Homo sapiens: one gene and its partners. The protein of the gene in region 1 purifies or fractionates together with the protein of each later gene. This does not show direct contact. Each region holds a gene or a part of one and is shown in the gene's direction. Other genes may lie near its edges.

Region 1 (3,500 bases):
ACTCCAGCCAGGGCGACAGAGTGAGACTTTGTCTCAAAAAAAAAAAAATTATTTCATTCTTAAATAGCAACAGTTACTTACTAAAGACCTCTATGTGTCTGTTGGGCACTGCATAGCTTCTCAAACCTTGGAATCACGATTGCACACTGCTACTCTCATTTCCCATTTCATATTGATTTTTGTGTAGTGCTTGCTTTTTTATAACAGCAACTGCCAGAAACAGCTTCTCAGAGATATGAAGATATTGAACGAATTTTATCATGGTCTGATATTGACATTGCAACTGTCTTAAGCTTGTAATTCATGTAGTAAGTATCCTTGTGTTGAGTGTTACTGTGTTTTTCTCAAAAGTTTGAGGTATCCCATGGCACCCTTGTGAGTTTGTAGTAGTGCCCAGAGTGTACTATTTGAGAACTGTGGCCACAGGCTAATTGGTTTTTTGTTTGTTTGTTTGTTTTCATTTGTTTGTTATGAGATGGAGTTTCACTCTTGTCACCCAGGCTAGAGCACAATGGCATGATCTCGTCTTACTGCAACCTCCACCTCCTGGGTTCAAGCGATTCTCCTGCCTCAGTCTCCCGAGTAGCTGGGATTACAGGCATGTGCCACCAAGCCCAGTTAATTTTTTTGTATTTTTAGTATAGACGGGGTTTCTCCATGTTGATCAGGCTGGTCTTGAACTCCTGACCTCAGGCGATCCGCCTGCCTCGGCCTCCCAAAGTGCTGGGATTACAGGCGTGAGCCACCACACCCATCCTGCTAATTATTTTTAGTGTATCAGTCAATGTATTGAAAACGACTGTGCCAGATTCTGAGTTTGCAAGGTGGAAAAAAGTCGTCCCCCTGCTCTTGTGCAGCTTACAGTCTAGTGGGGGCATAGATGTTAAATATAAAATTATTTGTATCAAATTGTAAATTGTGATAAATGCAATGGAGGAAAAAGGGTGCTACGAAAGAATAACAGGGTACCTACTTTTGATTAGGAGTGATATTAAGCTGGGATCTGAAGGATGGGCAAGAGCCTGCTGGGCAAAGATTTTTTTAAAAGGGTATTACTTGGGGGGAACAAACTATACAAACACCTTGAACTTGGAAGAAGCTTGACACGTTTATTGAAAGAAACCTAGTGTGATTGGACTAAATCAAGAGGGAATAGTGCAAGATGAGGTTGGAAAAGTAGGTAGGGACCAGATTTTATAGCACCTTAGAGGCCTGAGTAAGGGTTTTGGATTTTATTCTAAATACATGGAAATTGAAGCTTGGGAGATGGGGGATTAAAAATAATAATAAATAAATACACCTGAAGCATTTTAAAGTTTTAAGTAGAGAAGTGGCTTGATCAGATTTTAAAAGATCACTCTGGAGGAGAACAAGGACTGAAGTAGTATCCCAGTTGCAATAGTCCACATGAGAAAGAATGGTAGCTTGGTCTAGGAAGTGACCCTGGAAAGAGAAAGAAAGGATAATTTTAAGGTACATATTGGAAGTACTTCACTTTGGAATGGATTAGATATTTGGAGTAGGGAGCAAAGGGTATCAATAATAACACTTTGGTTTTTGGCTTATGCCATTTACTGAGATACAGAAGCCTGCAGCAAACACAGGCTAGGGGAAAAGAAGTTCCATTTTGATGTGTTAAGTTTGAAGTCCGTTTTATGTATCAGTGTGGAAATGAAGAATTCACAAATGTACAAATCTGGTGCTTAGTCAAGCATCTGGGCTAGAGGTACAAATTTGGGAGGGTTGACATTTAGATCTTCCCTGGTCTTCACACAGCTGATGGTATAATAAATTAAAATATTGTAGATTTGTTGTTCTTTAATGGTCTTACACTTTTTTTCCAAGGAGTTGGAAAACTGGAAACCTCCCAAATGAAAATTTTCAAATTGAAAAATACGAATCACAAACAGCCCAACCTTGCCTTATTCTTCAGTTTGTTTTTTTGGTTTTGTTTTTTTTTTGCGACAAGGTCTCGTGCTGTTGCCCAGGCTGGAGTACAGTAACGTGCTCAGCTCACGGCAACCTGTTTCCAGGGCTCAAGAGATCCTCTCACCTCAGCCTCTCACGTAGCTGGGACTACAGGCATGTGTCACCACGCTCTGCTGATTTTTAAATTTTTGTAGAGACAGGGTCTCACTGTATTGTGCAGGCTGTTCTTAAACTCCTGGGCTCAAGTAATCCTCCTGCCTCAGCCTCCCACAGTGCTGGGATTATAGGCATGAGCCACCACGCCCAGCTCTGCAGCCTTTTATCCTGTTTTTCATAAGGTCTTTTGTTGCCATTTTTATTCCCTTTTTCAGTCCTTAGCTCTTATCTTTTTTTTCACCTAATTTTATCCATATCACTGTCTCTGAATTCCCTGGTGGCAAGCTGCTTTTATATGCACTAGTAACGAAACCAGTGAGACTTAAGACAACTGTGTTTTCCTTATTCCTGGCTCATTCTCTTCTTGTGGCTTGATTCCAGTAAAAAAGGAAGATGCTCATCACTGCTGGATGGGACATCTTATGACTTTTCTGCTTTCTAGTAACTAGAGTTTTCCTTTTTTTCTTCCCCGCCCAAGAGACAGTCTTGCTCTGTCGCTGAGGCTGGAGTGCAATGGCGCGATCTCAGTTTACTGCAACTTCCGCCTCCCATGTTCAAGCAATTCTCTTGCCTCAGCCTCCCGAGTAGCTGGGATTACAGGCACCTGCCACCATACTCAGCTAATTTTTGTATTTTTAGTAGAGACGGGATTTCACCATCTTGGCCAGGCTGGTCTTGAACTCCTGAACTCGTGATCCACCTGCCTCGGCATCCCAAAGAGCTGGGATTACAGGCATGAGCCACTGTGCCCAGCCAAGTTTTTTTTTTTCCTCATCTATACTTTGCTCTCCTTGATCTCATTGGAAAAACAAGCAATAGAGCATAAGCTTTGTGTAACTATGGGGGCTTGCCTAACCCTTGATAAGCCATTTTCTCTGTAATAGAGTGAGGTATTATCTTCAACTATGCAGCAGCTGTCCCAAAACTAAAGAATATTTTCCAAGATGCTACAAAAATCAGTAACTCTGTATAAGAGTATCATGTAGGATCTACATTCTTTATGAAATAACTGGCAGTTGAAACCACGACGGAATTCTTTTAGAAATAGACTTTCCTCTTTCACTTGGATCTTTTTTTTAAATTTTCTCCTTAATTAATCTCTTGCAGTGACCTAGAGTCCCGCAGGGATGTGAAGAGAGAAGAAGGAGAGGCCTTTGCTAGGGAGCATGGACTTATATTCATGGAAACTTCAGCCAAAACAGCCTGCAATGTTGAAGAGGTACTATTTGGAAAACAGTGGGGAAAGCTCTTTAGAGATTACACCATTATTTGTCCTTGTATTCAGAATTCTCTTCTCCTATAAGAAATTGGTAAAGAAAGGATGTCTTGGCCGAGCGCGGTGGCTCATGCCTGTAATCCTAGCGTTTTGGGAGGCCAAGGCAGGCAGATTGCGTGAGCTCAGGAGTTTGTGACCA
Region 2 (3,500 bases), on another chromosome or scaffold:
AAGGTCACAGTGGCCATTGTTATATGGTGGTGGTGGGGAGAGGGGGATGGCTTCTTCTTAACCTCCTCGGGTGAGTCGAAGGTTTACCCTCCAGACCCTTGATGGGTCCCTTTGGTCCCTTGGGCTTCCTGAGTCTCCAGCCAGGGCCTGGGACCTTTGCTGGGAGCTTAGCATGGGGTCCAGCAGCCCCCATTGCTACCTAATTCCTTAGCAGCCCAGGGTGTCTGCCTGCTACTTCCCTGCCTGGAAGGAAGGCCTTCTGCCTGGTGCATTCCTGCTGCAGCCTCCACTGCCTCTTAGACTCTCACACAAGCTCAGCTCCCTGTCGCGTCCTCTCAGGGCCAGGCTTCTCCTTATCACAAGCTTAGACTGTCTGAGTAACTAATTGGATTTGTGTTTGCCTCCACACAGGACCCTAAGACCCGTGGGGCTGCGACTCCCTCTGTACTGGTCACAGCCGCACCCTATCCCCTTGCATGGGGCTGTCAAACCCAGGCTGGCCACTGACTAGCGCTGGAGGGGAGCAAACGGGAGGCCGGCCACCTGACTGATGTTCCCACACCTTCTCCCTGCAGGCTGTCCCCTTTTCTGGGACTATTCAAGGAGGTCTCCAGGACGGACTTCAGATCACTGTCAATGGGACCGTTCTCAGCTCCAGTGGAACCAGGTGTGTGTGTATATGGATGGAAACGTTTCACTCCAGCCTCGTCCCTTAGTAAACCACTGTGCCTGTGAGCCTGGGTTAGTTCAAACAGCAACATCCAAGCTCACGTGCCTGGCTCAGGGGAGGCCCAATGCGTCCCTAACCCATGCCACAGGGCAGCACTCCACAGGCACAACCTGCACCCAGGGGTGCCATTAACCTGGACTCCAGGATGAATGGGGCCCTGGGAGCTGACGGTCTAAGGAGGGCGTGGGATGGTCAGAGTTGGATGATTATGTTCTGGGTTGAACCTTGCACACTGTGACTAAGAGTTGCAAAAATCAAACTTCCTCCATTTCCCGTAACTGCTCTCATCCACTCTGAAGCTCTCCTTCTGCTGATGTGAAAATATTGAAAATTGCCATCAAAAGTAATTTGGTCTCTTTTGGTTTCAAGGCCTTTTCTAGAAACTACTAAGTCAATTCAACATACTAACATTGTATCAGGGCTGTTTCCCACCCCCTCCTCCCTCCCAAGGTGGGCTGTCTGGGAACAGAGAAGAGCTCACATGGCTTCTCAGTGGCTGGGAGGGCTCTAGACCCTCACTCAGGCCTGGCTGACCCCTGCCGAGGCACCCCGACCGGGTGGCACAGAGGTGTGCAGCTCTCTCCTGGTTTAGTGGGGGACCATGGGTGGCTGCCTGCTGAACTCTGCGGGGCCCACAGAAGAGCCTCTGGACTCATGACTCTCTCTCGGAAGCCTCTCTGCCTCAGTCCCAGGGGACCTCTCCTTAAGACCTTCTGGGCCTCACAGATCCCAGCTAAACCTCAGCTTGGACACCTAGATTCTTGGTGACCTCCTCCGCCATTGCCATCCTGCTGTGGGACTTCTCTGAGAGACTGCGGTGCCCTCAGGAGATGCCAAGGGCAGGGAGGCCCCGATCTCCCTGAACCCTCCAACCAGGGGAATCAGGACCATGACCCTGATCTTCCGCCCCTTCCTCTCTCCCTCTCCCTCCACCTCCCCCACCCCCCAGCACCAGGAGGGCTTCCCACTCCCATCCTGTCATATAGAGACAGATCCTACCTCAGAGGGCCCTCTCCTCTTGGGAGCTTTCTGTCTCTCCCTTCCTTGGGGCAGGAATTTCGAAAGGACTACAGGGATGAAGCTGAAGGACTCCAAAGGAAAAAATACATGCAGATATATTTCAAATGCAATCTTCTCCATTTATTCATTTAATTAATTAATTTTTTTCTTTTGAGACAGGGACTTTCTTTCACCCAGCCTGGAGTTCAGTGGTATGATCATAGCTCACTGCAGCCTCAAATTCCTGGGCTTGAGTGATCCTCCCATCTCAGCCTCCGGAGCAGCTGGGACTACAGGAGTGCACTATGATGCCCAGCTAATTATTATTATTATTATTTTGAGATGGAGTCTCGCTCTGCCACCAGGCTGGAGTGCTGTGGCGCTATCTGGGCTCACTACAACCTCCGCCTCCTGGGTTCAAGTGATTCTCCTGCCTCAGCCTCCTGAGTAGCTGGGACTACAGGCTCATGCCACCATGCCTGGCTCATTTTTTGTATTTTTAGTCGAGACGGGGTTTTACCATGTTGGCCAGGATGGTCTCGAACTCCAGACCTCGTGATCCACATGCCTCAGCCTCCCAAAGTGCTGGGATTACAGGCGTGAGCCATCATGCCCAGCCAATTTTTTTTTTTTTAACTAGAGATGAGCTCTCACTATGTTGCCCAGGCTGGTCTCAAACTCCTGGGCTCAAGTGGTCCACCCGCCTTGGCCTCTGCGCCCAGCCCCAATTTCACATGCTCTTTACATTTGTTCTCTTCTTTCCCATTTAATCAGGCATGTGCTGGCCTCCAACAAGTGTCCACTGGCACAGAAGGCTCTCTCTTCTAGGTGTGCTTAACAACTTCCATCTTCGGTATCAATTGGTAATCACTTTCCAAGACCTATGTTTCTTGTTTGCTAATACCAGCACTTTTCCTTAACCGTTTTCTATTTGCTTTTAGCAAATCATGCTGTAAAGGCAAAATCCAATAATTAAAACAAAAACACATTAGATCCCAATTAGAAAAACAAAAACGATGCCAACAAAGCAGTCTCTGCCATACAGGTTGTGTGCAAGATCCAGACAAATGCAAAGCACAGGCGCCGAGGCCCTCCTGTGCCTGTCACTGGCAATAATCCATGCCACAGAAGACTATTTGCTTTCCCTGGGCCTAGGTTTGCTGTGAACTTTCAGACTGGCTTCAGTGGAAATGACATTGCCTTCCACTTCAACCCTCGGTTTGAAGATGGAGGGTACGTGGTGTGCAACACGAGGCAGAACGGAAGCTGGGGGCCCGAGGAGAGGAAGACACACATGCCTTTCCAGAAGGGGATGCCCTTTGACCTCTGCTTCCTGGTGCAGAGCTCAGATTTCAAGGTGAGCAAGAATCCCCTCCCCACCTCTCACCCCTGGGACCCCCAGCCCTATCAGGTGAATGGCCTTTAAGTAATCACCTAAATTGACATTCAGCCAGAGTGACACCACTATACAGATAACACGCTCATTTCCTTGTGAGGTGTTACCCATGGCTGCCTAGTCTCCTTATGCACCTTCATCTGAATCTACAGGTGCACCTGCTGCTTCTTTTACTCTGAAAATAAGAACTAGAGGAGTCATCACGTTGCTATTTGGTGTTGTGTGTCTTTGAATTCCAAGCTCATTCCATTCCTCTGCTATAGCCATTCCTCCTCTCCAGGTCACTGGTAACATTTATTTTTCAGCGACATCGTTCCAGCCTTTATCCAGGGTCTATTAAGGGTATAGTTTTGTAAGCACATTGCAAATTACCCT
Region 3 (3,500 bases), on another chromosome or scaffold:
AGCCTGTCCATTTCTCTTTTTTTAATGAAAGCTTTTCGGGAATCACGAAGAAGATTCTTAACCCAGTGACGACCAAACTCAAAGATGTACAGAGGCAGTTAAAAGCACTGCTTCCTCCTGATGCTGTGTTAGTGGGCCACTCCTTAGATTTGGATCTCAGAGCACTGAAAGTGAGTATCTGATTTAGGACTTTGCATTTTCAGTATAAATGCCTGTTCCATTTATCTCAAATCTAAAGTCTTGGGCTCTTCTCTCCCACCCTGCTAGCCCACTTGTTTTTTCCTTTAGCATAAGACACTACTCATTTTATTCTCTTTCTTCCTCAGATGATACATCCATATGTTATTGATACATCGTTGCTTTATGTCAGAGAGCAGGGCAGAAGATTTAAGCTCAAGTTCTTAGCCAAAGTTATTTTGGGGTAGGTTTGCTTATATGCTGTAATATTGTTCTGACAAACTGCATACAAGTTAGCATGTAGTATCTAATTTAATGCATATTGCAAAATTCAGGGTTTCTGCTCTCTTTGCTTTAAACATGTTTTTTTGCATTTCTTATGAAATGAAGAAATTGTAGCAATAGAGACAGGGGTTTACATTCACAGTCGAGGCTTAATGGACAGAACTGAACCATGAAGGCAGAAGAGGTAACCAAAATTTCAAAACATAACATACCTATATGCCTATACAAGGTAGTATAACATACTTATACTGTCCTATTGTATTAAGACACATATGTACAAAGGTGTTCATTATAACATGGTTTAAAATAGCAAAATAGAAAACCTCAAATATTCTAGAAGTCTGGTTGAGTAAATTATGGTTATCTGTATTATTGAATATTTTGTTGTTCAGAAGAATATGATAAATCTGTTTGTGATATGAACACCTCTCTAAGACACTCCTGAGAATAAGGGATGCAGAGCAAGATCTATATATGCCTCAATATTTATATGATATAGATTAGATTTAGTTCTATCTATAAATATATACATATATTAAGCTTTTTAAAAACACCTAAGAAAGTATTTAAGTATGTATAGACACTTATATACAAATAAAAAAGTTTCAGGAAGGCAACTTTAAACAATGGTTAGATCTGAGAAATGGGCCTGGTCCATTTCTTAGAGAAGGGCCTGGCCAGGGAGTCAGCCAGAAACTTTTTGTTGGGTAGCCTTTTGTCCGGATGCTATGCTTGCTGTGAACAAAGCTATTCCTGATTGTTTTGCACCCCCAGTTCCTCTCGCAGGGCTGGGCAATTAGCTGGAATAAAGGAACCTTGATTTTTGTGATGCAAATCTAATTATCAGAATTCTAACATTTTATATGTAATCAGAACACTTGAGATGGTTGAAAAAGCCTATCATTAAAAGTGCTTCCAGTATGTCAATTTTATATTGACTTTCCAGGAAGGATATACAGTGTCCAGACAGACTTGGTCATGATGCCACAGAAGATGCTAGAACAATCCTTGAATTGGCTCGGTATTTCCTTAAGCATGGCCCAAAAAAGGTTAGTATCTTTGCCCAGTGTGTTCACCTTTTCTTAAAATCATGGGACTAGATCAGATTATCACAGACTACCAACTCCTATTATCTATTTTTATGAAAATGGCAGTGTGGGCCAGGTGCAGTGGCTCATGCCTGTAATCCCAGCACTTTGGGAGGCCAGGGTGGGCAGATCACCAGGTCAGGAGTTCGAGACCAGCCTGGCCAATATGGTGAAACCCCGTCTCTACTAAAAATACAAAAATTAGCCAGGTGTGGTGGCGCGTGCCTGTAGTCCCAGCTACTCCAGAGGCTGAGACAGGAGAATCGCTTGAACCAGGGAGGCAGAGGTTGCGGGGAGGCAGAGGTTGCAGTGAGCCGAGATTGCACCACTGCACTCCAGCTTAGGTGACAGAGCAAGACTTCATCTCAAAAAAAAAAAAAAGAAAAGAAAATGGCAGTGTGATTGAATCCTAAAAAAAGAAAATGGCAGTGTGATTGAAGCCTAGCATGTATTTCGAATTAAGACCCATATCACTAGCATAATGTGGTTAAGTATATAGTCCCTGCAGTTGGGCTTATCTGTTTTAAAATATATGTTCTACTATGTCTAGCTGTATAATCTAGGGCAATTTCTCTGAACAACATCAGTTTTTGGATCTATAATATGGGAATACACACTTTTCTGGGATATTGTTGAGAGTAAATGAGATATTGTGTATAAAATTCTTAGCACAGTGTCTTGAATATACTAAGCACTATCCTGGTGGTGTGGTGATTATTGTAGTTAATACTAATAATTATAAAAAATCTGCATAGATTTTTGTTTTCTTGGAGTAGGGGGAGCATACAATTGTTTCAACAGCAGTTCAGTGGGTAAATGTTAGAACAACACATAAGGGAGACATGGAAGAGGACATAGTCTCTGACAAACTTTATTATAATGCATTCTAACCTATTAGATTGTCCCATTGCATAGTACATTCCATCATGACTCCATTATGAAATAAATTGTACTCCACATAGAATAATAAGTAACAGCCAGAATAGTCTTTTGTGTCAGGTGGTAGAAAGACATTCTAACAGATCTTCTTTGAGCATATAGATAATAATAGCCACCACTCACTGAGGTCTTAAGTGTACTGTTCTAAAATGCTGTATATACATTATCTTATTTAATCCTCACAACAGCCCTGTGAGTTAGCTATTATCATTCCAATTTTATACATGAGCCTTTCGAGGTTACCAAAGGTTAGATAACTTATCTGAGGTCCCACAGTCAGTCAGAGGTGGAACCAGAATTGAAACCCAGGTCTGTCACATTCTGTCTTTTCTGTATACCAGGGATTAGCAAACTTTTTCTGTAAAGGCCAACTAGTAAATATTGTAGGCTTTGCAGATCATATTGTCTTTATTGCAGCTACTCAACTTGCTGTGGTACTGCAAGAGCAGCCATAGACATTATGTCAACACTGGTGGGCACAGCTGAAATAAAACTTTATTTATTTACAAAAAAATATGTATTGGTGTCTGCTAATCTCTGCTCTAAATCACTACAATAGGTTCTAAAACCCTTTTGGTCTCATGACTCTTTTTATATTGTTACCCACACAATGGTGTGTTCAGTCACTTAGTGGGTGTTAACCCAATGACCACTACCAAGGAATATTTATTTTTATTTTTATTTTTTTTGAGACAGAGTCTCACTCTGTTTCCCAGGCTGGAGTGCAGTGGTGCGATCTCTCTTCACTGCAGCCTCTGCCTCCCCGGTTCAAGTGATTCTCCTGCCTCAGCTTCCCGAGCAGCTGGGATTACAGGTGCCTGCCACCACACCTTGCTAATTTTTTTTTTTTTTGTATTTTTATTAGAGATGGGGTTTCACCATGTTGGCCAGGCTGGTCTCAAACTCCTAACCTCAGGTGATCCACCCATCTCAGCCTCCCAAAGTGCTGGGATTACAGGCATGAGTCACTGTGCCTGGCCCAAGAGGATTTAACAAGGGGATTTTATTACT
Region 4 (3,500 bases), on another chromosome or scaffold:
ATATGTTCTGGTGGTTGTGTGTGAAGGGTCACAGGATTCAAGTTCCACCATCTCCCTTCTCCACAGGAACCATCATCCTGGACTGTGTCAACATGGACCTTAAAATTGGAAAGGCAACCCCAAAGGACAGCAAATATGTGGAGAAACTAGAGGCCCTTTTCCCAGACCTACCCAAGAGAAATGATATATTTGATTCCCTACAAAAGGCAAAGTTTGATGTATCAGGTATGAAATGTTAGCTGACTTTTCTGCCTCCCAGATAAGAAAACAGAAAGGCAAGCCTTGTTCATTATATTATTTTTTTTTTTTTGAGACAGAGTCTTGCTCTGCCACCCAGGCTAGAGTGCAGTGGCACAATCTTGGCACACTGCAACCTCGACCTCCTGGGTTCAAGCGATTCTCCTGCCTCAGCCTCCCGAGTAGCTGGGATTACAGGCGCCCACCACCACGCCCAGCTAATTTTGGTATTTTTAGTAAAGATCGGGTTTCACCATGTTGACCAGGCTGGTCTTGAACTCTGAAGCTCAGGTGATCTGCCCGCCTGGGCCTCCCAAAGTGCTGGGATTACAGGCATGAGCCACCGCGCCTGGCCAATTATTTAAATTTTATACCAGAAAGAAATGAAGTACCATATTAGCCTAAGCATGAAATAATCAGTCATTTACTGGATTGTTCTATCCTGGCTCTTGGTTAGGATGAGGAGGAATGTATTAAGAGCCTCAGAAGGGCCAGACGCAGTGGCTCACGCCTGTAATCCCAACACTTTGGGAGGCCGAGGTGGGCAGATCACCTGAGGTCAGGAGTTCAAGACCAGCCTAGCTAACATGGTGAAACTCCGTTTCTACTAAAAATACGAAAAATTAGCTGAGCGTGGTGGTGTGTGCCTGTAATCCCATCTACTCAGGAGGCTGAGGCAGGAAAATCGCTTGAACCCGGGAAGTGGAGGTTGCAGTGAGCCGAGATTGCGCCATTGTACTCCAGCTTGGGCAACGACAGCGAAACTCCGTCTCAAAAAAAAACAAAAAGAGCCTCATAGGTTCCAGTCTATTCAGAGAATACAGGACATATATATAAAATATGCTGAGAGTATACTAAATTATCAGAGTGAAATCTATAGAATTGGTTAGGGAGGCAAAAGAAATATTTTGTGAGTAAACAAAAGATGAAGAGAACCCAAAAAAAACTGTATTCTTGTACTCAGCTACCACCTGTTGACATAAAAAGGAAGAAAGAAAGAAAGAACTCACATGTAAACAGTATAGGAAGAGGGAAAGATAAAAAGTAAAAGCCTCTGTTCTGGGTTTCATCCTTCTCTCCAAAGTTACTTGCTCTAAAGGTACCTATTGTCACCAGTTATTTAAGATGGCTTTTGATTATGTGATTACATTTTCTTTCTTTCTTTTTTTTTTTTTTTTTTGAGACAGAGTCCAGGTTCAAGTGATTCTCCTGCTTCAGCCTCCTGAGTAGCTGGGATTACAAGTGCCCGCCACCACACCCAGCTAATTCTTTGTATTTTTAGTAGAGACAGAGTTTCATCATGTTGACCAGGCTGGTCCCAAACTCCTGACCTCAGGTGATCCGCCCACCTCAGCCTCCCAAAGTGCTGGGATTACAGGCCTGAGTCACCGCGCCCGGCTATGATTACATTTTCAATTATCTCCCCCATTCATTGCCCCAAAGAGAGGCTGTTTTTCCTTCCTTGACCCATCTGGCTGTCCTTGCCTTCTTGGTCTTGGGACCCTGGCCTACCCTGTTTGACCCCTAGTCTCTCATCTGCTTTCTAGGACTGACCACTGAGCAGATGCTGAGAAAAGACCAGAAGACTATCTATAGACAAGGCGTCAAGGTGGCCATTAGTGCAATATATATGGATTTGGAGGTAAGAGCAAGTTGTGGCTGTGGGTGGGGAGAGAAAGCCTTTAGCTATGCATGTTATGCATGTGGCCTTGCACCTCATTCCTGGCTCACCTCCAAAATGTATCTTGTGTCTATCTTTGTCTCTACCTCCACTGTGACCACCAGAGTCCAGCATCTCTCACTGCACCGCTGTATTAGCCTCAGTACTGGTGTCCCTGCCTCTGCTTTTGCAGCCCTACAAACCATTCTCCCCGCAGCAGCCAGAGTGGTCTTTTTTAATTTTTTTTTTTTTTTTTTAAGGGAGTCATGCTTTGTTGCCAGGCTAGAGTACAGTGGTACCATCATGGCTCACTGCAGCCTCAACCTTCCAGGCTCAAGCAATCCTCCCACCTTAGCCTCTCGAGTAGCTGGGTCCACAGGTGCACACCACCACACCTAACTAGTGTGTGTGTGTGTGTGTGTGTGTGTGTGTGTGTGCGCGCGCGTGTATGTATGTGTCGATGGGGTCTCACTATGTTGCCCAGGCTGGTCTCAAACTCCTGGCCTCAAGCAGTTCTCCTTTTGGCCTCCGAAGTTCTGGGATTATAGGCGTGAGCCACTGTGCCCGGCCTCATTGTATTTTTAATAAAATCTAAAGGACTTACTGTGGTTTACAGCGCCATGCTTGATCTGGCCCTTGTCTTTTTCTCTGGCCTCATCTCATTCCAGCTCCACTCCTGTTCTACAGTACTGCAGCCACACTGGTTTCTTTTCTGTTCCTCAGAACCATTAAGCTCATTCCCAGCTGAGCTTTTTTCTTTGTAAAGCTGGCTCCTTCTTAACATTCAGGTACTCAGCTCAGATGTCTCTTGTTTTGGGAGGTTTTTCCTGACCACCCTAACTGAAGTACTATCTCCTATGCTCAAAAAACCTCTAGCAGTTATGTATGTATGTTTGTTTGTTTGTTTGTTTTGAGCCTGAGTCTTATTCTGTTGCCCAGGATGGAGTGGAATGGCATGATCTCAGCTCACTGCAACCTCTGCCTCCCGGGTTCAAGTAATTCTCCTGCCTCAGCCTCCCTAGTAGCTGGGATTACTGGTGCGTGCCGGCATGCCCAGCTAATTTTTTGTTTTGTTTTGTTTTGTTTTTGTTTTTTGAGACGGAGTTTCGCTCTTGTCCCCCAGGCTGGAGTGCAATGGCGCAATCTCAGCTCACTGCAACTTCCGCCTCCCTGGTTCAAGCGATTCTCCTGCCTCAGCCTCCTGAGTAGCTGGGATTACAGGCATATGCCCCCATGCCCGGCTAATTTTTGTATTTTTACCAGAGACAGGGTTTCACCATGTTGGCTAGGCTGGTCTCGAACTCCTGACCTCAAGTGATCACCTGCCTCGGCCTCCCAAAGTGCTAGGATTATAGGCGTAAGCGACCGTGCCCGGCCCAAGGATGTTTTATTGATGATGATGAGAAAGTCCTTCATCCCTCTCCGTTTCTTCCCTTTCAGGCCTTTCTGCAGAGGTCTAACCTCCTTGCAGATCTCCATGCTTTCTGCCAGGCTCACAGCTATGATGTCCTGGTTGCCATGACTATCTTTTTCAACACTCACAATGAGCCAGTGCGGCAGTTGGCTATTTTCTGTCCCCATGTGGCACTCCAAACAACGGTGA
Region 5 (3,500 bases), on another chromosome or scaffold:
AAGGGAGAAAAGCAATATACACTCTGCACTCCTTAACTAGATATTAGCTAAGTATTGTACCTGAACACAAATCTACATCTCTTTTATATTGAGCAGCATTTTTATGCCAACTAAGGTATCCTGTTACTCTAACTGATAAAAGATTAAGTCTTTTACTGTTCCTTTTATATAAATATGAGAATAAAGAATGAGAATAGCCTTACTGGGATTATCTAGTATACTATTGCCAAACTTAACATAATTATCACTTGGCATACTTATTAAAAGTAATAATTTCCTCTCTCAGAGTCTTAACACAATTGATTTGGGATGGTAACTGGTAACTTGTAGCAATAGTAAGAATCTCAGGTGATTCTTATGAAATGGTACCTTTGGGAAGCACTGTTCTAGTGGGACTACTGAAGGGAAAGGTTTCCATACTTTCTCCTTATGGTTGTAGTCTTCCTTGACTACCATGGGTATGTGTAACTGGAGTGTTCAAAAAGGACATTCATAGATCCAGTGTCCCAGCTTTATGAGAGGATCCTAGAAAACACAGTGCCTTCAACCTGAAAAGCTGAGTGGGAAAAAAAGGAGAAAAGAAACAGTGTTATGGTAATATAGTAGAAGGAAAATTAAATTCAGTTGGAGGACATCAAAGAAGGCTTAATGAATGAGATGCCATCTGAATTGAGGAATAGAGTGGAATAAAATCCAACAATGATCAATTTAGTGAGAATGTAATGGGGACAACAGGATCCTAGTAGGTGTTTGCTTTATTTGGCAGAGAGGTTATAACTTAACATTTTGCACATTAGGCTTAGAGTAGCTTAGTGATTAAGAACATAGACTTTGGGCCGGGTGCGGTGGCTCACGCCTGTAATCCCAGCACTTTGGGAGGCTGAGGTCAGGAGTTCAAGACCAGCCTGACCAACATGGAGAAACCCCATCTCTACTAAAAATACAAAAATTAGCCGGGTGTGGTGGCGCATGCCTGTAATCCCAGCTACTCAGGAAGGCTGAGGCAGGAGAATCACTTGAACCCGGGAGGCGGAGGTTGCAGTGAGCTGAGATCGCATCATTGCACTCCAGCCTGGGCAATAAGAGTGAAACTCCGTCTCAAAAAAAAAAAAAAAAAAAAAGAACATAGTCTTTGATATTAGATCTGACTTTATATTTCAGCTCTGCATCTTACTAGTTTCAGACAAGTTACTGAACCTTTCTAAACATCAGTATCCTTATGTGTAAACTCGGGTTAATCATCTTATTCGTCATGGGTTTGTTTTGAGGCTTAAAGGGTGTCATGTATATAAAGCATAAAATAAAGCAAAGCAAATACTAAGTAGTCTTTCCTGGAGGGAGCTTGAGACTGGAGATCCAGGGTAGAGATGTAGATTTTTGGTGTACAATCGTAGTCGAAATAATCAGATGAGCCAGATACATTACAATTTCTAATTGTAATGGTGAGACGTCGTCATTTTAGCACCTACTGACCATAGGTTGCTTAGGAAAGCAATAATAGGAGTAACTTTTTGTTATATTAGACATTTTTTTTTTTTGAGACAGAGTCTCACTCTGTTCCCAGAGTGGAGTGCAGTGGCATGATCTTGGCTCACTGCAAGCTCTGCCTCCCGGGTTCATGCCATTCTGCTGCCTCAGCCTCCCGAGTAGCTGGGACTACAGGCGCCCACCGCCACACCTGTCTAATTTTTGTATTTTTAGTAGAGACGGGGTTTCACTGTGTTAGCTAGGATGGTCTCCATCTCCTGACCTTGTGATCTGCCTGCCTCGGCCTCCCAAAGTGCTGGGATTACAGGTGTGAGCCACCGCACCCGGCCTATGTTAGACATTTTTTCTACTGTTTGGTTGACATGAGAACAGTGCTTTCTAACATTTTTTTTCCCACATTTAATTCAGAGTCCTGCGTTGGTACTTTGTGGTCAGACATTAAAAAATAATGTTTTCTGCCAATATTGTGTTCTACCTCCTGCTCTATTCTGGGAATCATCAAATTCATGGAGCCTAGGTATTCTCTGGGTCTGCAAATATCCTCCTAAAGAGAGAACATGTGTTGTTGGACTGGTAGCAGCTTCTTTAGTTATCACTCATTGAATTCTAGTTGTGATAACATTGATGGATGGTAGTTGCCCTTGGCTGTGTCTTGATCTAATAATTTCACTTATGAAAATTTATTTATTTAATTTTTTTTTTTTGAGATGGAGTTTCACTCTTGTCGCCCAGGCTGGAGTGCAATGGCATAATCTCGGCTCACTGCAACCTCTGCCTACGAGTTTCAAGCGATTCTCCTGCCTCAGCCTCCTGAGTAGCTGGGATTGCAGGCATGTGCCAACACGCCCGGCCAATTTTTGTATTTTTAGTAGAAACGGGGTTTCACCATGTTAGCCAGGCTGGTCTTGAATTCCTGACCTCAGGTGATCCTCCTGCCTTGGCCTCGCAAAGTTCTGGGATTACAGGCGTGAGCCACTGCACCTGGCCGAAAATTTATTTTAAAAAATAATTCAACAAAGAAAAAGTTGAAGCTTAGAACTTTTCAGTATATATGAAATTTTTACATTTTCAGTGTAAAAACTTGTAACCAGCTTAAATGTCAATTAATAAGCAAATGATGATATATCATGGTCCCTATAGAATAATTTGCTATAAATAAAAATTATGGCAATAGTACACTATGGAAATTATTTTCTCTATAGTGAGCAAATAAGACAACATACAGAATGACACCTACAATGATTATAGCTATGTTATATAAAATTCAAAAATAACTTTGTACTTATCAGTGTGTGTAGTGTGTTAGAAACCAGTGTTGAAATATAAAAGAAGTAAATAAATCTTTTCAGTAGTGAGGTGAAAGTTTTGACTTTAAATAAGAGGGCTAAATCGGTTGCTCTTGTTTGAAGAAGGGCTTTTAATCAGTGCTGGGGGAAAAGGAAAAGTGTGGCAGTACACTGACCTCTATAAAGACATCAGGTGATCCTGGGTGTGGTGGCTCACACCTGTAATCCCAGCACTTTGGGAGGCCTAGGCGGGCAGATTGCTTGTGCCCAGGAGTACCAGACCAGCCTGAGCAACATGGTGAAACCCCATCTCTACAGAAAATACAAAAATTAGCTGGGTGTGGTGGTGCACACCTGTAGTCCCAGCTATTTGGGAGGCTGACATGGGTGGACCGTTTGAGCCCAGGAGGCGGAGGTTGCAGTGAGCTGAGATCATACCACTGCACTCCAGCCGGGGTGACAGAACCAGACCCTGTCTCGAGAAATACAAAAACAGAAACCCAAAAACAACTTTTTTTTTTTAAAGACATCAGGTGAAAGGTAGAAGGGCAATAGGTGAGTCTGTGTCTTACTGAGAATAAAATATCTAAGCATGGGAAAAGGAGATCATAAGAGGCAAAAAATGACGTGATTCACCTTTGTGCAAAGCTGTAGTAAGGAACACACGAAGCAGAGCTCAGGTGCTTCAGTTGTCTTCCCAGAATTTTCTCAAAAATTCTGAGTAAA
Region 6 (3,500 bases), on another chromosome or scaffold:
CTTCTAGAATTCCAATTAAATGTATGTTAGACCCTGCTCTATCTTTCATATCTCTATACTCTCTTCTGTGTTTTTCATCCTTTTGTCTATTTTTCCATGCTTTATTCTGAATAGTTCCTTCTAATCTACCTTCCAATTAACTAATTTTCTCTTTAGCTATATCTAATTTGCTGTAATTAATTACAGTTGCCATTTTTATCCTAAAATTTCTATTTCATATTTTTGTATCTGCCATGGTACTTCTTATGGCTTTTAATTCCCTGCTAACTATTTAAAGTTCTTATTTTATCCTGTGAATATGATATTCCTAGTTATTTTATTTTTAATTTTTATTATTTGTTAATCTTATGTTTTATTTACACTTCTTTTCTGTGACATGAGCACACACAGATTCATGTGTATACATATATGGCTCTGATACCTCTCCTTTCCTGTCCTCATTCAAACCACTGATCACAGAGAGAGGACTATTTTTTTTTATTTTTAATTTTTCTATTTCAATAGGTTTTTGGGGGAACAGGTGGTGTTTGGTTACATGAATAAGTTCTTTAGTGGTGATTTTGGTGCACCCATCACCCAAACAGTGTACATTGTACCCAATGTGTAATCTTTTAACCCTTGCCACACCCCACCCTTTCCCCGCAGTCCGCAAAGTCCCATGTATCATTCTTATGCCTTTGCTTCCTCATAGCTTAGCTCCCACATATGAGTGAGAACATACAATGTTTGGTTTTCCATTCCTGAGTTATTTAATTAAAATAATAGTATCCAATTCCATCCAGGTTGCTGTGAATGCCATTATTTTGTTCCTTTTTATGGTTGAGTAGTATTCCATGGTGTGTTTGTGTGTGTATAACATTTTTCTTTATCCACTCATTGATTGATGGGCATTTGGGCTGGTTCCATATTTTTGCAATTGCAAATTGTGCTGTTATAAACATGTGTGTGCAAGTATCTTTTTTGTATAATGACTTCTTTTCCTCTGGGTAGATACCTAGTAGTGGGATTGCTGGATCAAATGGTAGATCTACTTTTAGTTCTATAAGGAATCTCCACACTGTTTTCCATAGTGGTTGTATGAGTTTACATTCCCACCAATGGTGTAAAAGTGTTCCCTTTTCACCACATCCACACCAACATCTATTATTGTTTGATTTTTTATTATGACCATTCTTGCAGGAGTGAGGTGGTATCACATTGTGGTTTTGATTTGCATTTCCCTGATAATTAGGGATGTTGAGCATTTTTCCATATGCTTGTTGGTATTTGTTTTTTTTTTTTTTTTTTCATTATTATACTTTAAGTTTTAGGGTACATGTGCACAATGTGCAGGTTAGTTACATATGTATACATGTGCCATGCTGGTGTGCTGCACCCATTAACCCGTCATTTAGCATTAGGTATATCTCCTAATGCTATCCCTCCCCAATTCCCCCCACCCCGCTTGTTGGTATTTGTATATCTTCATTTGAGAATTCTCTGTTCATGTCCTTAGCCCACTTTTTGATGAGATTTTTTTTTTCTTGCTGATTCGTTTGAGTTCTTTGTAGATTCTGGATATTAGTTGGATGTATAGATTGTGAAGATTTTCTCCCATTCTGTGGGTTGTCTGTTAACTCTGCTAATTATTTCTTTTGCTTTGCAGAAGCTTTTTAGTTTAATTAAGTCCCATCTATTTATCTTTGTTTTTGTTGCATTTGCTTTTGGGTTCTTGGTCATGAAGTCTTTGCCTAAGCCAATGTGTAGGAGGGTTTTTCCAATATTATCTTCTAGAATCTTTATGGTTTCAGGTCTTAGATTTAAGTATTTGATCGATTTTGAGTTGAATTTTGTATAAGGGGAGAGAGAAGGATTCAGTTTCATTCTTCTACATGCAACTTGCCAATTATCCTAGGACCATTTGTTGAATAGGGTGTCCTTTCCCCATTTTATGTTTTTGTTTGGTTTGTCAAAGATCAGTTGGCTGTAAGTGTTTGGCTTTATTTCTGGGTTATCTATTCTGTTCCATTTGTCTACGTGACTATTTTTATACCAGTACCATGTTGTTTTGGTGACTATGGCCTTACAGTATAGTTTGAAGTCTGATAATGTAATGCCTCCAGATTTGTTCTTTTTACTTAGTCTTGCTTTGGCTATGTGAGCTCTTTTTTGGTGCCATATGAATTTTAGGATTGTTTTTTCTAGTTCTGTGAAGAATGATGGTGGTATTTTGATGGGAATTGCATTGAATTTGTAGATTGTTTTTGGGAGTATGGTCATTTTCACAATATTGATTCTACCCATTCATGAGCATGGGATGTGTTTCCATTTGTTTGTGTCATCTATGATTTTCTTTCAGCAATGTTTTGTAGTTTTCCTTGTAGAGTTCCTAGTTATTTTAAAGTCTGTGTTCGGTCTTTCAGCATTTAAAGTTTGTAGGTTTATTACTATTTCTCTTCTTTCTGTTGGTCATAACTCTTAGTGTTTTGTTTCCTTGTGTGCCTGGTTACATATGTGCTGGTCATTGTATTTGAAAATTATGTGTGAAATAATTTGAGGTTTTGGATTATGTATATTCCTCCAGAAAGAATTTCATTTGCTTCTGTGCATTTCTTAGGAACATTACAAGTCCTTCTTCTCAGTTAATTTTCGTAGTATCTTTATCAGATAGGTGCTATTACAACCACTCACTTAGCAGATGAAAATCATGAGGCTCTGAGAGTCTAAGTCATCTACTTAGAATTGGACAATGGTGAAGCCAGGATTCAAACCCACATCAATAAGAATCCAGCGCTCTTAACAAGGGGCCAGTACACTTTTTTAAAAAATAAAAGGCTAGATAGTAAATATTTTAGACTTTGTGGACTGCACAGCCTCTGTTGCAACTACTCAACCCTGCCTTTGTAGCATGAATGCAGTCATAAACTATACATAAATGAATGAGCCTGGATTCGTTCCAAGGAAACTTTATAAAAACAGGTGGCAGGCTGGATTTGGCCCATGAGAAGTGTAGTTTACACAAAAGTTGAGCAAACCAATTTTTTTCTGATTGTTTTTCCTCTTCTCAGTGTAAGAAGAAGCTTGGGAAGCTGCCACCTCAGTATGCCCTGGAGCTCCTGACGGTCTATGCTTGGGAGCGAGGGAGCATGAAAACACATTTCAACACAGCCCAGGGATTTCGGACGGTCTTGGAATTAGTCATAAACTACCAGCAACTCTGCATCTACTGGACAAAGTATTATGACTTTAAAAACCCCATTATTGAAAAGTACCTGAGAAGGCAGCTCACGAAACCCAGGTATGCTATCCCCACATGGCTTAGCTCCCCTATGTAAATGAACACCTGGATACAGGTACAGTGCCTTGGAAATGGAGGAGGTGGGAGGGCTCCCCACTTAGTGAGAATCTCCTGTTGCCCATCATTGTACTGGGCATTTTACTACTGCCATCTGTTTTAAACACCTACCTCCAACCCTGTGAGGCAGGCACTATGCCAATTATTTTACAGGTGAGTAAACTGA
Region 7 (3,500 bases), on another chromosome or scaffold:
TATCCAGGAGCAAGTAACATGACAAACAGATCATTCAGATAACGTATACAGATAAGAGTATGACCTTAAAGCAGGTTTTCTCAACCTCAGCACTATTAACATTTTAGGCCAGATAATTCTTGGTTGTATGGACCTGTCCTGTGCATTGTAGACATTTAGCAGCAGCCGTGGCTTTTACCCACTTGATGCCAGTAACTCCCTCCTCCACTGTGACAACCAAGAATGTTTGATTATGATATATTATGTTAGGGTCAGTGTTCCCAGTAGAGAACCACTGTTCTCAAACAGTGCTTCTGAAACCTGCCTGCACATTAAAATTACCTGGGAAGTTAAATACAAAAACAAACCGAAAGGGCCCAGACCCCACCTTACACCCATAGATTTGATTGTGAAGTAGGACCTTGATCTCTATGTTATGTTGGTGGTGTTTTGGTCGTTTGTTTTTAAGCAGATTCTAATGAGCAGTTTTTAAGCAGATTCTAATGAGAAGCACCCCTGTGGAGAATACCACTTTGGGACTTAGACTTCTTGAGTAGTTTTGATTGTCTAGTGTTGAAATTTCAAGTAAATTACTTGAATTTTTTGGGCTTTATATTCTTCAGTTAGAAAATCAAAGAGATGGACTAGATCATTTCTAAATTTCTTAATTTTGAAAAAAATGCCAACTTGTTTTTATAGCCTTTTGCATAAATTCTCTTACTACATAGCTTTTACTGACAGGAAGATCTTTGTTTTATCCATTGTCTGACCTCAAGTCCTTCATGTTTTCCTCCACTTTTGTCTCTGTCTTCTTTTTGCCCTTTTCCTTAATAACGCTTTAATAAACTGTATTAGTAGATGCTTAATTGTACCTGACTATAAATATAATCATTTACTTTATGTATTATATCAAAACCAAAAAACCCTGTTAGAGCTCTCCGGGAGGGTTAGATGTAGTATTGCAGGTCCTTTATTAGTTCAGTAAATATTTGAGTGCATACAAACAAAGTGGACCTTCTCTCATGAGACATAATTACCACCAAGGGCAGTGATTTTCACACTTTGTTGCTATTATGTAGAGGTTTTTCCCATGTCTAAAGGTTTATTGTGTTTGGAGAAGCACATTCCTCTGGGGAAAATGGTTACAACCAAGAGTCTATAGAAAAGGCCTGTAGTGTTATAGACTGTGATTAGATCCTAAAGTCGTTGTTACTCTTGTCCCTCCAAATCATGGCAAAGACCAAGGATAATGGCTTCCATTTATTGCGTGCTTATTGTGAGTAGGTAAGCACAATTACTGTATAAGGTATAGTAATGATTAAAATAATTATTGGAAGCTGATTAGAAAAGTTTAGGTATCCTGCCCAGAGTCATGTGGTCAGTCTAGTGAAATTGGCCAACTTGAAATTTGACTGCAGAGTCTGAGCTTTGAACTACTGTACAACACTGCTTCCCACATAAAGGAGTTCCACTGCCCTTAATATAATCCTGATCTTACCTAGATAAATTACCTCTCTAATTCAAATAGATCTCAGTGTGTTGTTAGGATTAAATTGAGATAATATATGAGAAATGTCCCAGCTCAGTGTCTAATACATGGTAATAGTCTCTCAATAGGATGTTTCCCAAATATTTATTTCTGAAGTGCACCCAAATCTCTGTAGTTTTAGTTTTTGCCCTTAAGCTTTGGTTGGAATTAAATTACTTTCTGATATCTCCTCCTGTTATCTAATGGATGCTGCTAGTCTTTTTCCACCAGGGATCAGAGCGATAATTTGCCCTTAAAAAAAAAAAAAAGAGAAGAAATCACTATTTTCTCATCTCTCCTAAAGTTGGTACAGATTGAGCATCCCTAATCCAAAAATCTGAGAGACTCCAAAATCAGAAACGGTTTGAGCACTGACATGAAGCCACAAGTGAAAAATTCCACACATAAGTGCTTAACACTAACTTTGTTTCATGCACAAAATTGTTAAACTATTATATAAAATAAGCTTCGTGTGTAAGATGTATATGAAATTTAAATGAATTTCATATTTAGATTTGGGTCCTGTCCCAGTGGGGTATCATCTCATGTATATGCAAATATTCTAAAATCAAAAAAAAATCTGAAATCTGAAACAGTTCTGGTCCCAAGCATTTCAGATAAGGGATACTCAACCTGTAGTACTATTCTAGATAATAGTACTCTAGATGCACAGGAGAGAAGTAAATTTATTACATACAGTGGATACCTCAGGACATTAAGGCTTAACTATTTCTTAGAATCTTCATTGAAAAGATTACAGAATACATCAGGTAGCTCTGCTGTAAAATTTTAGACCAGATAATTTGAAGTGTTAATTTATTACTATTAGTCATATGAATTGTTAGATTATGGAAATGATGTAACAGTACTCAATCAAGCTATACTAGAGACTGCTTCTCAACATGAAAGGAATTATATATAACAAATTCTTTGTGTTCAAAGCCATCGGTAAGATACTGATTTTTATATGAAAGCACAGGTTTAGATTTCTGATTTATAGTGTACAGTTTCAGAGGGGGAAGGTTTTGCTCTATAGTTTTTCATTCTGCCAAAGAATGCTCCTCTCTGGGAAAATAGAGTGTAAGTACATTTGTATTTTTTTAAATGTTTTATATTTCTCAAAGCTTATTATAAATCTTTTCCCAAGGAATCATGTTATTTGTGAACACCTTTGAATTAAGACATTATTCTCATATTCCTCCAGAATTAAATACAAGCTATAATTGATCCTGACAAATTAGTGAAAATTGACATTTTCACATATTTCTAAGTCCTGTACTATTTGTACTGATTAGTTGTAGAGAATCCTTTTTTAAATCTACTTTAGCCTTCAGTTTGGTGATATTCTGGCTTCAGTGGGTCTTGTTTGTGTCAATGGGGTAGGATTGGTTTCTTAACCCCCAAATGTCCCCTTTTGAAAAATTGAAACAAAAGGCTTGACTGATAGTATTAAGTTACAAGAATATGTATATATATATTTTTTGCTTTTGCAAGGTGGAAGTATTGTTTAAATTATTGGAAAATTAGAATGATTTTATTATTTTTCTAGACCAGGAAGACTTCAGACTTAAGTGGTATGATAGTTAAGATGGAATTTTACATTTTTTTCTTTTAGGTTGACAATTGCATTTTTTGCACTCTCCGGGCTGGATATGTTGGATTCCTTAGATGTGGTGAACAAAGATGATATAATAGAGTGGATTTATTCCCTGCAGGTCCTTCCCACAGAAGACAGTGAGTGAGTTTTTAGCATTTTATTTTTAGTGTGACTGGTTGTACCTGACATAACATGTGTTGGACTAGAAAATCTTAGTACTTGTATACTGTTAACATATTTTATTTATCTGTGATTTTGTTGTAATGCAGCATTGCCATTCTGTTGAAATACAGTACTTAACAAATCTGATCATAATCTCAAGAAAACAATTTAGAGTTATCTGGAATTTAATAGAGATTCACAGTTGTGGCACCATACTATGTTGTATACTTCCAC

Evidence for each region.
Region 2: the proteins of RAB2B (region 1) and LGALS9 purify together in Homo sapiens (co-immunoprecipitation; one large-scale study listed by IntAct). This does not show direct contact.
Region 3: the proteins of RAB2B (region 1) and REXO5 purify together in Homo sapiens (affinity purification with mass spectrometry; one large-scale study listed by BioGRID and IntAct). This does not show direct contact.
Region 4: the proteins of RAB2B (region 1) and PRUNE1 purify together in Homo sapiens (affinity purification with mass spectrometry; one large-scale study listed by BioGRID and IntAct). This does not show direct contact.
Region 5: the proteins of RAB2B (region 1) and BCAS3 purify together in Homo sapiens (affinity purification with mass spectrometry; one large-scale study listed by BioGRID and IntAct). This does not show direct contact.
Region 6: the proteins of RAB2B (region 1) and OAS1 purify together in Homo sapiens (co-immunoprecipitation; one large-scale study listed by IntAct). This does not show direct contact.
Region 7: the proteins of RAB2B (region 1) and PGGT1B purify together in Homo sapiens (affinity purification with mass spectrometry; one large-scale study listed by BioGRID and IntAct). This does not show direct contact.

Annotation. Positions count from the first base shown.
Region 1 is NC_000014.9:21,463,460-21,466,959, reverse strand, and holds part of RAB2B (ras-related protein Rab-2B), read left to right. Parts: intron 1-1,089; exon of another isoform or gene 1,090-1,443; intron 1,444-3,192; coding exon 3,193-3,304; intron 3,305-3,500. UniProt on the Homo sapiens protein: The small GTPases Rab are key regulators of intracellular membrane trafficking, from the formation of transport vesicles to their fusion with membranes. Rabs cycle between active GTP-bound and inactive GDP-bound states.
Region 2 is NC_000017.11:27,637,688-27,641,187, forward strand, and holds part of LGALS9 (galectin-9), read left to right. Parts: intron 1-575; coding exon 576-667; intron 668-2,884; coding exon 2,885-3,086; intron 3,087-3,500. UniProt on the Homo sapiens protein: Binds galactosides. Has high affinity for the Forssman pentasaccharide. Ligand for HAVCR2/TIM3. Binding to HAVCR2 induces T-helper type 1 lymphocyte (Th1) death.
Region 3 is NC_000016.10:20,827,027-20,830,526, forward strand, and holds part of REXO5 (RNA exonuclease 5), read left to right. Parts: intron 1-31; coding exon 32-170; intron 171-326; coding exon 327-421; intron 422-1,408; coding exon 1,409-1,511; intron 1,512-3,500.
Region 4 is NC_000001.11:151,025,449-151,028,948, forward strand, and holds part of PRUNE1 (exopolyphosphatase PRUNE1), read left to right. Parts: intron 1-66; coding exon 67-225; intron 226-1,784; coding exon 1,785-1,879; intron 1,880-3,337; coding exon 3,338-3,496; intron 3,497-3,500. UniProt on the Homo sapiens protein: Phosphodiesterase (PDE) that has higher activity toward cAMP than cGMP, as substrate. Plays a role in cell proliferation, migration and differentiation, and acts as a negative regulator of NME1. Plays a role in the regulation of neurogenesis.
Region 5 is NC_000017.11:60,684,351-60,687,850, forward strand, and holds part of BCAS3 (BCAS3 microtubule associated cell migration factor), read left to right. Parts: intron 1-3,500. UniProt on the Homo sapiens protein: Plays a role in angiogenesis. Participates in the regulation of cell polarity and directional endothelial cell migration by mediating both the activation and recruitment of CDC42 and the reorganization of the actin cytoskeleton at the cell leading edge.
Region 6 is NC_000012.12:112,913,462-112,916,961, forward strand, and holds part of OAS1 (2'-5'-oligoadenylate synthase 1), read left to right. Parts: intron 1-3,047; coding exon 3,048-3,277; intron 3,278-3,500.
Region 7 is NC_000005.10:115,252,878-115,256,377, reverse strand, and holds part of PGGT1B (geranylgeranyl transferase type-1 subunit beta), read left to right. Parts: intron 1-3,122; coding exon 3,123-3,241; intron 3,242-3,500. UniProt on the Homo sapiens protein: Catalyzes the transfer of a geranyl-geranyl moiety from geranyl-geranyl pyrophosphate to a cysteine at the fourth position from the C-terminus of proteins having the C-terminal sequence Cys-aliphatic-aliphatic-X.